Linked DNA regions of Homo sapiens: region 2 is linked to region 1. Evidence: fine-mapped expression QTL. Tissue or cell type: whole blood. Region 1 holds a variant in brackets; the other region holds the start of a gene. All regions are shown on one strand. Distances are from middle to middle.

Region 1 (8,104 bases):
GCCTGTGAGCCTGGAGAATCAGGGCTGAGAAGGACAGGGCGGGCAGCCCTCTCCCCAGCATCCCGTGGACAGCAGGCTCTACGCCCAGGACTGGCCTAACCTCCGCTGCCTAACCGTCATCCCCCTGCAGCCACCCTTCCCAGAGTCCTTTGCCCAGGCCACCCCAGGCTTCTTGGCAGCCCTGCCGGGCCACTTGTCTTCATGTCTGCCAGGGGGAGGTGGGAAGGAGGTGGGAGGAGGGCGTGCAGAGGCAGTCTGGGCTTGGCCAGAGCTCAGGGTGCTGAGCGTGTGACCAGCAGTGAGCAGAGGCCGGCCATGGCCAGCCTGGGGCTGCTGCTCCTGCTCTTACTGACAGCACTGCCACCGCTGTGGTCCTCCTCACTGCCTGGGCTGGACACTGCTGAAAGTAAAGCCACCATTGCAGACCTGATCCTGTCTGCGCTGGAGAGAGCCACCGTCTTCCTAGAACAGAGGCTGCCTGAAATCAACCTGGATGGCATGGTGGGGGTCCGAGTGCTGGAAGGTGAGTGAGCCCCAATTCCTCTGGCTGGACACTGGGAAGCTAGCTCTCAGCTTTGTCCCCTGCCCTGCTCTGTACGCCTGGGACCTGGCAGACTCCTGGCCCCAGTATAGCCTGCCTCGGCTATAAGGAGAGAGGAGGCCAGGGGCTGGATCTTCCTGGCGGCTGTGGCCCAGCTAACTGTTACGCAATTTTTTAGAAGTAGGAAAGATTTAAAGGCAACATGGGAAGGGATTTGGGAATTATCTTTTTCTCAGAATGAAATGATCCATTTGACAGCCCCTCCTCACAACGCCACGAACAAGGGGAGCAGGGAGAGTGCCCCGTTAACAGATATTTGTGGGAAGACCCCTCCCCTTGAATGAGGTGGCTGTGGACAAAACTGAGGACCCTCAAGATCGGGTTCCCACCCCACTTCCTCCACTTGCAGCCAAAGTCTCCTGAAGGTTCTGCAAAAACAGTCAAGTGTTTGTTTAGCTTTGAGAGCTATAAGATCCCCAAGAAGGGGGCTGGAGACAGGCCAAGGTAAACACACACATGCGCACATCATGCACACACACACAAGCACACATGCACGCACGCACACACACATGCACATCACACACACAAGCACGCATGCACGCATGCACACAAGCATATCACACACACACACAAGCACACAGGTGGCTCCCACAGGGCTGGGTGCTTCCTGGGGCGCATGTGATAGCAAAAGCTGTAGTTCACTAAGTATCTGCTCAATGTGGGCACAACCCAGGTGCATTGCATGGGGTACTTCAGTGCCCTCTCCCCGTCATCCCTGAGGTTACACCCATTATTATTATCCTCTTTTAGCAAAGAAGGGAGGGGGTTCTCTTAATCATGACTGGGCAGCATTCACTGGGAAAGCGGCCCCACCTAACAGCCTCAGACCAGGGTCCCCACTCCTTGGCAGCTGCAGTGAGCCCGGCTTCTCCACCCACGCCACATCCCACATCCACTGCCCCTTCTCCTCTCAATAATCTTGCTCCATAACAGATTCCCTAGGAATTCAGTGCTTAATACAACCACACCCGTGAACTGTGCCCAGAAGGGAGCAAAGGCAGTGCCAGTGCCTAGAACAGAGCTTCAGAACTGGACTGCCCAGGTTCAAATCCTGGATCTCCCCCAACTGGCTGCATGGCACTGAGTTAACTGCTCTCGTGGAGTTTTGGTTTCCTCATCCTTCAGCTGCAGCTGGTGGATGGGAGTATCACACGATCATGCACATGTGTCTCATGAGATTGTGTGTATATGTCATCTTACCAGTGGGGCTCAGTACTTGTCAGCCATTACTGTTTCCATCTATCAAAGCATTGAGCATCCTTGACTAGCAGCAACGGCTTCCTCACCTGTGTCTCTCTAAACAATGAGCTCCCAGTGGGCAGGGTCTACGTCCCATTGCAGTGGTCCCCAACCTTTTTGACACCAGGGACTGGTTTTGTGGAAAGCAATTTTTCCATGGACTGAGGTGGAGGGGAGGGTTTCAGGACAATTCACGTGCATTAAATTTATTGTGCACTTTATTTTTTATTTATTATTATTATTATATTATTATTATTTTGAGACGGAGTCTCGCTCTGTCGCCCAGGCTGCAGTGCAGTGGTGCCACCTCAGCTCACTGCAACCTCCACCTCCAGGTTCAAGCGATTCTCCTGCTCAGCCTCCCAAATAGCTGGGACTACAGGTACCCACCACCACGCCCGGCTAATTTTTGTATTTTTGGTAGAGATGAGGTTTTACCATGTTGGCCATGCTGGTCTTGAACTCCTGGACTTAAGTAATCCACCTGCCTCGGCCTCGCAAAGTGCTGGGATTACAGGCGTGAGCCACCGTGCCCAGCCCACTTTCTGTTTATTGTTATTATGTTATAATATATAATTATACAACTCGCCACAATGTAGAATCAGTTGAAGCCCTGAGACTGTTTTCCTGCAAGTAGATAATCCCGTCTGGGGGTGATAGGAGACGGTCTCAGATCATCGGGCATTAGATCCTCATAAGGTGTGTGCAGCCTAGATCCCTCGTATGTGCAATTCACAACAGGGTTCACACTCCTGTGAGAATCGAATGCAGCCACTGATCTGACAGCAGGCGGAGCTCAGGCGGTAGTGACAGCGAATGATGGGGAGTGGCTGTAAATTACAGATGCAGCTTAGCTCGCTCACCCACCACTCACCTCCTGCTGTGCGGCCCCATTCCTAACAGGCCATAGACCAGTAATGGACTGGAGGTTGGGGACCCCTGTCCTATTGGACTTTGTAGACCCGGTGCAATCACAGGAGGAGACACTCTGACACACAGGGAGCCCCTCCCTGTCAGCACTCCCAAGCCTTTACTTCTTCCCTGCGGGTTTGCCCATGGAGGGGGCTGAGCAGAGGGGGCGTGCCAGAGCCGGTCGCCCTGGAGGACTACCTCAGCATCCTTCTTAACCTAGCCCATCCTCCCTAACAAGGTTCCTACCTGACTGCAGCTGCCCCACTTCATCCCTCGCCCTCTCAGCCCTGCGTGAATGCTCTCACTCGGATGTTCTCACTCATGTCTCCCCAATTTCTGGCCACCTCTGGATCTTCACCATTGTCTCCCACCTCAACAAAGCCACTGCTAGCCCACAGGGTACCTCTGTGGGAATTAGAAAAAGGCACTTCCTTCCTGAAGTCACTTGACAGCCATCTGCTGGGAAATTGTCTTACTGCATATACAAACCCATGATCCAAATGTGTGTTGCCCTTGTGCAGTGTACAACCTGCTCAACTGTACACAGTGGTTCTCTACCCTGCAACCTTTCTCTGGCCATCCAACAAGAAAGTATATGAGTCAAGGATTTGAGGATTTGAACCTCAAGTATCAAAGATTTGAACCCAGGCCCGCCTCCAGAAACCAAGCTCTCAGCCACCACCTTCTACTACTCTGACACCCATTCTCATTGCCCAGATCACCCCCATCCTGGCCTCATTTCCAGTCAGCTCAGTAAATCCTTCCCCTCTGAGTGCTGGAGAAGGCAGAGAGGCTCCCAGGAAGCATTAGACTTTGGGGCATTTTTTTTTCTTGTTCCAAGGCAAAAAAAGGTCCCGATTCCAAATAGTTGAATGAATTAACTCTGTTCCCTTCCAGAGCAGCTAAAAAGTGTCCGGGAGAAGTGGGCCCAGGAGCCCCTGCTGCAGCCGCTGAGCCTGCGCGTGGGGATGCTGGGGGAGAAGCTGGAGGCTGCCATCCAGAGATCCCTCCACTACCTCAAGCTGAGTGATCCCAAGTACCTAAGAGGTGAGCACACGCAGGGTGTCCCATTCCCTCAGGAATAGCGCCTATGGGGATATTGACTGAAATAACCCAGCGTGGGCTCTCCTGGGGCAAGGCTGGGCTGGGACAGTC[C/T]GTAACCAACTTGGACCTGTCTGCTGAGCAAGCCACAGACGAGCCCTGGGGACGTGCGGTCATCCTTGACTTCAGACTCTGACGGGCTCTCCTACCCACACAGAGGTGTGCAGAGGAAGCAGGGTGTCTTCTCTCAAGCATTCAGCGCACGCACAAGCTGGAGGTCCTGGTCCTAGACTAGAGCGGAGAGGCTGGGCTGTCCCAGAGGGGAGAGTATCCAAAAGGCAATTCAACCCTTTGCACAGCAAACAGTAGTGTCCCATGTCACCAAATTATTTTAATCCACTTCATTAAATGTCAGTAGAAATTCCCGAAGTTGTCCACACACTATTTTTCAAAACAGTGGGGTTTATCTTTCTCATGCCTTATGACCACTGAGAGTCTCTCTCTCCTCACCAGCCCCGAGTGACCCTGCAAAAGGTCCCATCTAATAAGTTTGGCTGAGTTGTTCCTGGATGGCAAGGGCGGGGCACAAATAACCAGTCCATCATGCTGCTCCAACCCTGTCCCCTCTGCTCCCCACTCCCATCAGATGCATGGGGGTGAGCGGGGAGGTAGCCAGGCCACGCTTCATGCTCACACGGCAGTCCAGCCGCAGGGACCATAGCCCATGCTGACCTTTCCAATTTTAAGGTCCCCCACCCTCTCCCAGGCCTGGTCCCTAACACTGTCCCCACCTATGTCATCTTAAAGATATCTATGACTGGGCATCTGTTTAGTTAAGAGCTCCACGTTCTCACCAAACCAAAAGGTCTACCAATATCACCTCCCCACTAATTCCACCTCCCCACTTGTTTTTTTTTTTGGGGGGGTTTTTTTTTTTTTTTTTTTTGAGACAGTGTCTCACTCTGTCTCTCTTTTTTTTTTTTTTTTTTTTTTTTTTTGAGACAGAGTCTCACCCTGTCGCCCAGGCTGGAGTGCAGTGGTGCGATCTCAGCTCACTGCAACCTCTGCAACCTGGGTTCAAGTGATTTTCCTGCTTTAGCCTCTCTCAAGTAGCTGGGACTACAGGCATGCGCCACCACGCCCGGCTTTTTTTTTTTTTTTTTTTTCTTGAGATGGAGTCTTGCTCTGTCACCCAGGCTGGAGTGCAGTGGTGCAATCTCGGCTCACTGCAAGCTCTGTCTCCCGGGTTCATGCTATTCTCCTGCCTCAGCCTCCTGAGTAGCTGGGACTACAGGCACCTGCCACCACACCCAGCTAATTTTTTGTATTTTTAGTAGAGATGGGATTTCACTGTGTTAGCCAGACTGGTCTTGAACTCCTGACCTCAAGTGATTCGCCCGCCTTGGCTTCCGAAAGTGCTGGGATTATAGGCGTGAGCCACCGCTCTTGGCCCTGCCTCTTAAAAAAAAAAAAAAAAAAAAAAAAGGCTGATCATAGCTCACTGCATTCTCCAACTTCTAGACTCAAGCAACCTTCCTGCCTCAGCTGGGACTACAGGTGCACACCACCACACCTGGCTACTTTTTTTATTTTTGTGGAGACAGAGTCTTGCTATGTTGCCTAGGCTGGTCTTGAACGTTGGGCCTCAAGCGATCTTCCTTCCTTAGCCTCCCCAAGTGCTGGGATGACAGGCGTGAGCCCTGCACCTGGGAAACTAAACCTTTTATTTATCTGGGGTTTCCATGGGATGCAGTGGGTTTAGTCAAATCCCGTCCCATCACTGTTCCTATTGATTAGGGGAAAAAATGGTTTTATAAGCAAAAGGAGCTTTCTTGAGTGTTTCAAACCCAATCTGGGACCAGGGGACAGGGCTTAGAGCCCTGAGCTGCACCTGCCAGTGGGCAGGGCTGCAGGAGGAGGTGGGGACACCAGGGTGGCCCACTGCTCCTGGGTCACCCCCACACCCCACCCCATCTATCTGTCCTCTCTGCCAGAGTTCCAGCTGACCCTCCAGCCCGGGTTTTGGAAGCTCCCACATGCCTGGATCCACACTGATGCCTCCTTGGTGTACCCCACGTTCGGGCCCCAGGACTCATTCTCAGAGGAGAGAAGTGACGTGTGCCTGGTGCAGCTGCTGGGAACCGGGTGGGCCCTGCACTTGCCCTATTTGCTGGAAACCCAAACGCACTAGTTCTCAGCTGGTCCTGTCCCGCTCCTCCTTCTCCAAGCCCTAGGGCTGAAGCCAGGGGTTTGTGCAGACACAGGTGCAGCTCCCTGTAGCTGCCGGGTACTGCCCTCTCCTACTCCAGCAGGGTCCCCCTTGCTCCAGCCGCCCGCTGGCCTCCCATGCCACAGCAGGCCTTCCAGCAGCCATGGCTGAACACACCACCTCCAGGCCCCAGGACAAATCCCCAATTCCTCTCCGCAGTTCCAAGTCTCCAGGCCCCTAGAGGCCTCTTTTCAGACTCTCCAAGGCTTCCTCCCACTTCAAAGACTTTGCTCCCCCCACCCCACCCACTCCACCCCCTGGGCCTCAGGAAGTCTGCCCATCCTCCAGGGCTGGCGCCAGCATCCTACCTCCAACCCCATCCTATCTCTGACCCCAGCACATAGCAGACCTCCTGTGAGGGCCTCTCCTGGCACCTCTTATAGCCACAGATGCAATTTACATTTGTATTATGAGCCTGTCCCCATCCCCAGTGAGGATGCAGCTCCAGGAAGACAGGACTGAGCCTAGCTGGGCTCCTCATTTTATCCTGGTGTTTGGTGGGCTTGGAACAAGGCCCCAGGGCAGCCCTAGGTGCAGGGCCCATGGGCAAAGTGGGCAGCCGGTGCCCAGGCCGCATCCTGTCAGCATCCTTCAGAGCAGTGCTTAGGCCAGGACACAGCTGGATTCACGGAGGGGCTGGGCCCCAGCCAAGGACCTCTGCTTTTTAAAAATTTTTATTTATTTTTATTTTTTTGAGACAGAGGCTCACTGTCCCCCAGGCTGGAGTGCAGTGGTGTGTTCTTTCTCGGCTCACTGCAAGCTCCTCCTACCAGGTTCAAGTGATTCTCATGCCTCAGCCTCCTGAGTAGCTGGGATTACAGATGTGCGCCACCATGCCCGGCTAATTTTTGTATTTGTGTGTGTATTTTTTATTTTTACTTTATTTTATTTTATTTTTATTTATTTATTTTGAGATGGAGTCTCGCTCTGTCTCCCAGGCTGGAGTGCAGTGATGCGATCTCAACTCACTGCAACCTCTGCCTCCCGGATTCAAGTGATTCTCAAGTGATTCTCCTGCCTCAGCCTCCCGAGTAGCTGGGATTACAGGCACGTGCCACCACACCCAGCTAATTTTTGTATTTTTTGTAGAGACAGGGTTTCACCATGTTGGCCAGGCTGGTCTCGAACTCCTGACCTCAGGTGACTTGCCTGCCTCAGCCTCCCAAAGTGCTAGAATTATAGGTGTAAGCCACCGCGCCTGGCTGGTGCAGGAGGAATAAGCATGTTGGGCCCAGATTCCAAGTGGTCTGGGTTCAAGTACCCACTGTTCGGGGCTGGAAAAGATGTGATTTGGCCCATGGAGCAATAGGAAGTTTCAGCCTTGGTGGCTTCCTCAACCCCAGAATAGCTCTAGCGTCATCTTTCCTGGGCTAGGGCAGCCAGATTTAGCAAATCAAAATGCAGGACTGCTGTATTGTCTCTGTCAACCCCCATGCCCAGCTGGGTGTCTGGAATCTACTGGGAGTTCCAACAACTACAACTAGGGGGCTGGGAAGACGCAGGGCAGAGTCAGCGCTCCATCCTTAACAGCTTGGAACCACTTTCCCCCAGGACGGACAGCAGCGAGCCCTGCGGCCTCTCAGACCTCTGCAGGAGCCTCATGACCAAGCCCGGCTGCTCAGGCTACTGCCTGTCCCACCAACTGCTCTTCTTCCTCTGGGCCAGAATGGTGAGTGCCCAGGGAGCCCCCGCCGTGCCAGGGGAAGGGGAAGGAAAAAGGAAAAGGGGCAGCCGGACGTGGTGGCTCATGCCTGTAATCCAAGCACTTTGGGAGGCCAAGGCAGGCAGATCACTTGAGGCCAGGAGTTCAAAACCAGCTGGGCCAACATGGTGAAACCCATTCTCTACTAAAAATACAAAAAAAAAATTAGCTGGACGTGGTGGCGTGCACCTGTAATCCCAGCTACAAGAGGAGGCTGAGGCAGGAGAATCACTGGAACCCGGGAGGCGGAGGTTGCAGTGAGTAAGATTGCGCCACTGCACTCCAGCCCAGGCAATGGACTAAGACTCTGCCTCAAAAAAAAAGAAAAAAGAAATAAATG
Region 2 (8,104 bases), 100 kb after region 1:
AAAGTGTTGGGATTACAGGCATGATCCACCATACCTGGCCACAGATAATATAGATTTGAAAGCCTTTTTTTCACTCTACCCACAGGTGTCAGTACCTAGAGACTCAACAGCGAAGGGAGTAAATGGAGCCGTGCCTTCATTTGTGGAACCTGAAGCTTACAAAATATGTTTAACATACCCAATACAGGCAATGCGAGTACATTACTAGTGCTATTCATATAGTTTTTCTGTTGTTTTTGTTTTCTTTTCTTTTTTTCTTTTTCTTTTTTTTTTTTTTTTTGAGACAGAGTCTCGCTCTGTTGCCCAGGCTCGAGTGCAGGACTGTGTGTCCAGTCCTGTCTTATTCTATGAATAAGCACCCAGCCCCCATTTTCTTGATTTGTGAAATGGGGATGACTGTATGCCTATATGCGCCTCATAAGGTTGTCATGAAGATGAAAAGTGATTGTGTGTGTGTGTGTCTGTTTGCCTCGCACAGGGCCCAGTCCTACCAAGTGACAATAAGTGGTCGATAAACATAAATAATCACCCTTAGTTTAAGGCTCTGGCAGCTCACATGTTCTAAGACCCAAGCACTTGTTCATTCATTCATAAGAAGAGAGAAACTGTCCCCACCCTTCTCTGACAGTCCAAGGACCCATGGTTCTCTGCCATGAATCTGAGACACATTAACTATAGGATGGAAAACCATCTACTGCATGTGCTTAATAAATTCCAACTTAATTTGTCACGTTTAGGGTTCTGAAAATATTTACAATCATTGCACTTGAAAATAAGCCATGCCCATGAATATAGCACTTAAGGCTATATGAATAGGGGCCGGATGCAGTGAGTCACCCCTGTAATCCCAGCACTTTGGGAGGCCGAGGCTAGTGGATCACTTGAGGTCAGCAGTTCGAGACCAGCGTGGCCAACGTGATGAAACCCCGTCTATACTGAAAATACAAAAATTACCTGGGCATGGTGGTGTGCATCTGTAATCTCAGCTACTCAGGGGGCTGAGGCACGAGAATGGCTTGAACCTGGGAGGCAGAGGTTGCAGTGAGCCAAGATGGCACCACTGCACTCCAGTCTGGGCAACAGAGTGAGACTCAGTCTGGAAAAAGTAAAAGAAAATGGGGCTCAGAAAAGTTCAGCAACTTTGTTGTTGTTGTTGTTGCTGTTGTTGTTGTTGAGACGGAGTCTCGCTCTGTCACCCATGCTGGAGTGTTGCGGCGCAATCTCGGCTCTCTGCAACGTCTGCCTCCTGGGTTCAAGAGATTCTCCTGCTTCAGCCTCCCGAGTAGATGGGACTACAGGTGCGCGCCACCACGCCCGGCTAATTTTTCTTGTATTTTTAGTTGAGTTGGGGTTTCACCGTGTTACACGGGATTGTCTTGATCTCCTGACCTTGTGATCCACCCACCTCGGCCTCCCAAAGCGCTGGGATTACAGGTGTGAGCCACTGCACCCGGCTTAAGTTCAGCAACTTTCTAAAAACATACAACCAGAGCATGGCAGAGCACAGCAGAACCCTAAAGCATCTGAATTCACGTCCCTGGATCTCTTCACCATCCCCTGGTGTTCCACTCCCATTACGCAGAAGCAAAGTCACTCAGGCACTTGCAAAAACAGTAACGATCATAGCTGGATCTCAGTGAGCATTTGATCTGCGTCAGCCCCGTACCAGGAGCTTTATACACATTGACTCATTTAATCCACAGCATGACACCAGGATTTGGAAGCCAGGAGATTCCCATTGGTGATGGGGAGTGGAGGCTCATGGAGGTGAAGTGACTTGCCCCACAGTCACTCAGCTCGTCAATTGGGGAGCTAGAATATGACCCTAAGCCAGTTCCTGCCTCTTTGCTGTCCTAGAACCATCTGCCTGTAACAGCACAAGGTATGTGGATGATTTTGGTGATGCTTTTAAATCCTCTGTGTGACAATAAACATATACGCATGTAGATTCATAGAATAAGACAGGACTGGACACACAGGCACACACAGCCACCAAGAGATATGAAAGTCCCTGGATAGAAGGCTGGGGTTAAGCAGTCAGTGCTGGGGTGGGACAGATGGGGGTGGATGCTAATGTTTCTTACACTTTCAATACATTAATTTACAAGACTTCGGTGTAATAACAGCGACAGCATATTTTGTGAGCTCCTACTGTGTGCCCGGCACACAGCAAGGAGCACCAAGAACTATCTCATTTACTCCTCCCCGCAACCTTGTAGCATTGTCCCCATGTTACTGAGCAGGGAAGTGAAGTGCTCAGAGGCAGAGGGATGCAGCCAAGAAGGAATTCCACATCCACCTATGTCCAGCTTCTGCCCCCAGGGTGAAAAGACCAGTGATCCTGGGGGCCAAGGATCTGGCAGCCAATTCTAGGCCTCCAACTGACTTGCTGCACAACACAGAGTACATCACAAAGCAAACCTACCCACTCATTCTCTCTCTCGTCCCAGTGTCAGCTTCCTTAAAGGGGAGGGAAGGGGGTCTGTGAGCAGAAGGAGGGCTCTGTGGTCAAATGTGAGGTTCTAGAGTCTCCTTTGTGGGGATCTCAGCCCCGACTCCACCTCTGCGTAGATACAGAACTTAGTGTCATCCCTTCACCTGTCAAAGCCTCAGTTTCATGGAGGTTACATGGGAAAATAACAGCTATCGGGAATTGGAAGAAACATCATCTGTTAAGACAGTGCTGTAAACATTCAATAAACAGCTGTTGTCATTATCACCACCATTCCATTTATCACTGTGATATGCCATTATATGAAATGACAGCAGTGGCTTGGCCCCTGATACCTTTGTTTTCTATCAGGAGAGTCTAAAGTAAGGGAGCAGGTCAGCTTCAACAAGGAGAAGGAAGAAAGACTTTGTGTTTTGGTCACTGGGCCGAGGATAGGATGGTTGGACAGAGAGGTCACTGGATAGAAGTTAAACCCACCAGGTCAGCTGAGTAACTCACTAATTCCTTCTGATCTGGGAGTCTAAGGAGCTCCGTCTTCCTACCGCCATAGCTGATCTCAAGCCCCTCCAACTGTCACATGGGGGCCCAAGAATCAGGAGTCACTCACCGCCATGACCAGCTCAAACGGGTACTTGTAGACTCGGACAGGAGACTGGTATCTTTGCACCATGTTCACGCTGGAGCACCAATGGAGGTCACCAGGCAGGGGTGTGCACAGAGCCTGGGGCGAGGAGTGACTGGTGAGGTTGCAGCTCCCACCTCGGGAAGCAGGGACACCACCCACCAAGTGTAAGGGGCAGCCCCTGGCCCCACCCACACAGCTCCCCAGCCTTCAAATTGAGAAGGCTGATATTCCCCCCAAATTACTCCAGGCCAAGCCCCAACAGCTTCCCTGTCATTAGCCATGGCCCCAGACCACGCTCAGCCTTCCAAGAGCAGTCAGCACCCCCAAACTTTCCTCTACCCCCACCCCTTCACACTGAGGGCCCCCAGAAGCCTTACGGCCACCCACACAGACACACACACATTTGCAATTCTTACACTCCCACGGTTCTATTCACGCATGCACCCCGCAGCTTGCCACAGACTTGCTGGCCTACAGCCCACCCCCGAGTCTCCTTGCACCTGCCCTCCCATTTTCCTCCCAGACACCCTGACATACACACACAGCCTTCACCACATTTCACAGGCACTGTCTCTATCACACACATGTACACACGCAGGTTTCCCTCCCACACGGGACTGCTTTTGCACACGCCTCCAACTTTGCACACACACCCTGAAACACGCACCTGCCCAGCTCCACGCACGCAATTCCCCTGGTGTGCACAGACGTGCACACACGCACACACACCCGTGCGCACATGCACACACACGTACACACACGTAGAGGCAATCGCACACGCATGCACACACAGGTCCCCGCAGCTTTGCTCACCCTCGCCCTCGGGAGCCTTTGGGAATGCAGCCTAGGGGAAGTGCCCTGGAAGCCCGCCTGGCTCGGGAGCTGAGCGCTTACCCGCGCCCGCCTGGCCTGGAGCGCAGTACCTGAGGCGGGGCCCGATCGCGGATCTCTAGCCTGGTGTGTCCCGCCTTGAACACCCTGCGGCCAGGACAGCTGTGGAAGGCCGGAGGGGCGGGAGCGAAACCTGCCGGGCCGAGAGAGCTCCAGGACCCGGGACAGCGGAGATCCTGGCCTGGCCCCGCCCCTGACCTGGTCCCGCCCACGTCCCCGGCCATGGCCCCGCCCAGGTTGGCCCTGCCCCCTAACTGGTCCCGCCCCACTCTGGCCCCGCCCCAGGCGAACTCCCCCTGGTTCTAGCCCCGCCCCTTATTTTTAGATGTCGCTTGTTTGACCACGCCCTCAGCCCAGTCCTTTCTCTAGATTGGTCACACCTCAGGAAGTCCCCTCCCCCTTCACTGGCCCCGCCCTCCAAGGCCCTCAGCCTCGGGGAATGGTAGGCCACAGGACGACCCCGCCCTAATCTAGCTCTGCCTCCAAGCAGACCCTGAGTCCGGGCCGACCCGCCCCGGACCCTGCGTCTGGCCGACAGTACTGTTTACATTTGTAGATAAGCAGAATTTACGCTTTTCTTGCTCAGATTAACCTCGCCCTCGTCCCGCTGCACTTGGGTCTGACTGGCTCCTCCACCTGTCCCCGCCCCACGGCCCGCGCATGCACCTTCGCCCACTCTGCACACCTTCACAGAGCGCCTGCTGGGGGTCAGCCCTGTCCAGGCGCTGGAGAGCCGCCGGTGAGCCACACGCACGAATCCCTGCCCTCGTGGAGTTTATACTACGGTGGGGAGACAGACACTCAATAAATAAGGCAAATATATGATGTGTGAGGTAGTGAAAAACTCTAACGAGAGAAAAATAAGCAGGAAAGGGGCTCAAGGAGCCAGCGGAGAGAAAGGACAATTTAAAACAGGTAAGAGGCCGGGCGCCATGTCTCACGCCTGTAATCCAAACACTTTAGGAGGCGGAAGCGGGAGGACCGCTTGAACCCAGGAGTTGGAGACCACCCTGGGTAACATAGCAAGAACCTATCTCTACAAAAAAATTTTTTTTTAGTTTAGGCAGGGCGCGGTGGCTCACGCCTGTAATCCCAGCACACTGAGAGGCCAAGGCAGGCAGATCAGCTGAGGTCAGGAGTTCGAGAACAGCATGGCCAATATGAGGAAACCCCGTCTCTACTAAAATACAAAATTAGCCGGGCATGGTGGCGTATACCTGTAATCTCAGCTACTCGGGAGGCTGAGGCAGGAGAATCGCTTGAATCAAGGAGGCGGAGGTTGCAGTGAGCCGAGACTGCGCCACTGCACTCCAGCCTGGGCAAGAAGAACAAAGCTCCGTCGCAAAAAAAAAAAAAAAAAATTAGCCAGGCGTGTTGGCACGTGCCTGTGGTCCCAGCTACTCAAGAGGCTGAGGCAGGAGGATCCCTTGAGCCCAGAAGTTCAAAGCTGCAGTGAGCTGTTACCTGGCCACTGCACTCCAGCCTGGGCAACAAAGCAAGACTCGGTCTCAAAATAAATAAGTAAATAAATAAATAAAACAGGGAGTAAGGGGGCCTCCCTTGGGAGAGTGACATTTGTCCATCACTCTCATTTTAACTCACACTTAACCCCTTTCAGCCCTCCCAGGACTCCCAGGGGACCAACCTTGCTCCCAGAAGTCCTGCCTTGCCACTCCTCATCTGTTTAGCCTACAAGACCCAAGAAATTGGCTCTGGACAGTGCTGTCATCCATGTATTCACTCATTCAACATTTACTGAGCACCTACTACGTGCCACCGTGGGGTGAATTCACCCCTTCAAGCAGGGGAAGTCAGAGGTGGCCAGGGAGATGGACAACCCCTGATATATTTCAAGTATGTCACTGCACCCTGTGAAAATCACCTCTCTTCCCTTCCTAGCCTGCATCACATTCTAATATTGCATTTATTCGTTTTATATATCTGTGGGTTCCTGGAGGTCTCTCTCAGGAGACTGTGAGCTCCCTGAGGGCAGGGGCAGTGGCTGCCTTATTCAGCTGCCCGCATGTTGGGAAGGATCTTACTGGGGACCTGGCAGGCAGGCAGCAGGTGCCCAGCAGACTCTTGGCTTAGGTAATCAAGGGCGGAAATGGGACACAAAGTTCCCATCCCTGTCGCAAGGTGGCAGCAAATGATAGCCCATGGCTCCTGGAGTAACACAAGGGTGAGTAGGTGGGGGACATGGGATCCAGGGATGACTGTCCTAACCCGGGCTCATCCAGGAAATGCCCAGCTCTGCCCAGGCATCGCCACAGAGCAAAGTGAACGTTAACACCGTTAGCTGCTGTTACCACCACGAAAGGCGTTAAGTCCGCCTCTCCTGCTGCCCAACATTGAGGGAGGACAATGACTGCGTGGGAGACAGAGGTGTGACAGCCCTGCGGGTACAGAGAGCTCAAAGTGGAAACTGGGGCCTGGAGGGGAGTGAGAACCCCACTCCCTCCTCCTCCAGCCCCAGGGAAGGGAATTAATAACGCCACCAACACTCACTCCAGCTTTTTTTGGGTTTTGGGGTTTTTTTTTTACGTGGAGTCTTGCTCTGTTGCCCAGGCTGGAGTGCAGTGGCGCAGTCTCGGCTCACTACAACCTCCGCCTCCCAGGTTCAAGCAATTCTCCTGCCTCAGCCTCCCGAGTAGCTGGGATTACAGGCGCTTGCCACCACACCTGGCTAATTTTTGTATTTTCAGTAGAGACAGGTTTCATCATGTTGGCCAGGCTGGCCTCAAACTCCTGACCTCAGGTGATCCACCCGCCTCAGCCACCCAAAGTGCTGGGATTACAGACATGAGCCACCACACCTGGCCCAGTTGCCTATTATTACTGTTCTACTAATTATTCCTACCACTTGTTGACACTCCATTGGCGCTTACTATACCTAGCACCATTCTAAAGCTTTACAAACACGAATGCATTTAATCCTCAAAGCAACCCCAGAGCAATGAAAATGTCTTGGAATGTGATAGAGGTGGTGGTTGCACAACGTTGCAAATGCACATGCCACTGAATTGGGGCCACAATATTAAAATGATTAATTTTCTGTTACGTGGCTTTCATCTCAATTAAAAGCCCATATACAGTCAAAACTATTTTAATCCTCATCTTACACGTAGGGAAACTAAGGCACAAGGCACAGAGAGACTGAATAACTTGCCCAAGGCCACACAGCTAGTAAGGAACTCATACCCAGGACTCTCGTTCTCCAATGACTTCTTCTCCTAGAGCTGCAGCTGATGCTCCGGGAAGATGTGATTTCCAAGCCCTGAACTGCAAGATCTCCAGGCACCCTGGCTCCAGGACAAGAAGGCGCTGCAAGGATAGGCTGATTCCCCAGGGGTGCTGGGCATGAACTCAGTCCCAGGGCAGGATCTTTAGCCTCTATCTGCTGCTTCCCACCTGCCCTGCAAGAATGACCCAGCCAATGCTGCCTTTTGTGGAGGTGGGTTTTGGGAACCCCAGAAACCACCTCATGTCTCTGAATGTCTTCCCAGCAGATGGGCCACTGCCAGAGAAGATTCAACCATTAGTGATGCATTTGTTTGAGTAAAACTCTGGACCCCATCCAAAGGCAGATGTTCCTGGAAGGCATCCTGCTGGGAATGTCCTGAGTTGAATGGCTCAGTGTGACATTGAGAATGGGGGTTAAGACCCTGGAATACATAATGGGCCCTGGGATGGCTCTGAAGCTGAAGAAGATGCAGTAAGCAGGGTACGGTCCCCAGCTTAATTTTATTGTGGCAAAATGGTCCGAGCACAGTGGCTCATGCCGGTAATCCCAACAGTTTGGGAGGCCGAGGTGGGCGGATCACCTGAGGTCAGGAGTTCGAGACCAGCCTGGACAACATGGCAAAAACCTGTCTCTACTAAAAATGAAAAAATTAGCCAGGCATGGTAGCGCATGCCTGTAATCCCAGCTACTCAGGAGGCTGAGGTAGGAGAATCACTTGAACCTGGGAGGTGGAGGGTGCAGTGAGCTGAGATCACACAACTGCACTCCAGCCTGGGCAACAGAGTGAGACTCCATCTCAAAAAAAAAAAAAAAAAAGAAAAAAATCAGCTGGGCACGATGGCTCATGCCTGTAATCCCAGCACTTTGGGAGACCGAGGTGGGCAGATCACCT

Evidence for each region. PIP is the estimated chance that this variant, and not a neighbour inherited with it, causes the effect.
Region 2: SEC14L5 starts here. The variant in region 1 is fine-mapped to the expression of SEC14L5 in whole blood (INTERVAL, PIP above 0.99).

The regions. Positions count from the first base shown.
Region 1 is chr16:5,058,120-5,066,223 of GRCh38, reverse strand. C16orf89 (chromosome 16 open reading frame 89) reads left to right here and starts at 268. Exons shown (of 8, transcript NM_001098514.3): 1 at 268-523; 2 at 3,650-3,799; 3 at 5,788-5,938; 4 at 7,614-7,731. The coding sequence starts at 316. RefSeq lists a silencer at 6,062-6,356. The variant C/T (reference allele first, on the strand shown) is at 3,908.
Region 2 is chr16:4,954,342-4,962,445 of GRCh38, reverse strand. SEC14L5 (SEC14 like lipid binding 5) reads right to left here and starts at 4,116. Exons shown (of 16, transcript NM_014692.2): 1 at 4,001-4,116; 2 at 3,060-3,173. The coding sequence starts at 3,122. RefSeq lists an enhancer at 3,589-4,124 and silencers at 3,928-4,223, 4,022-4,231.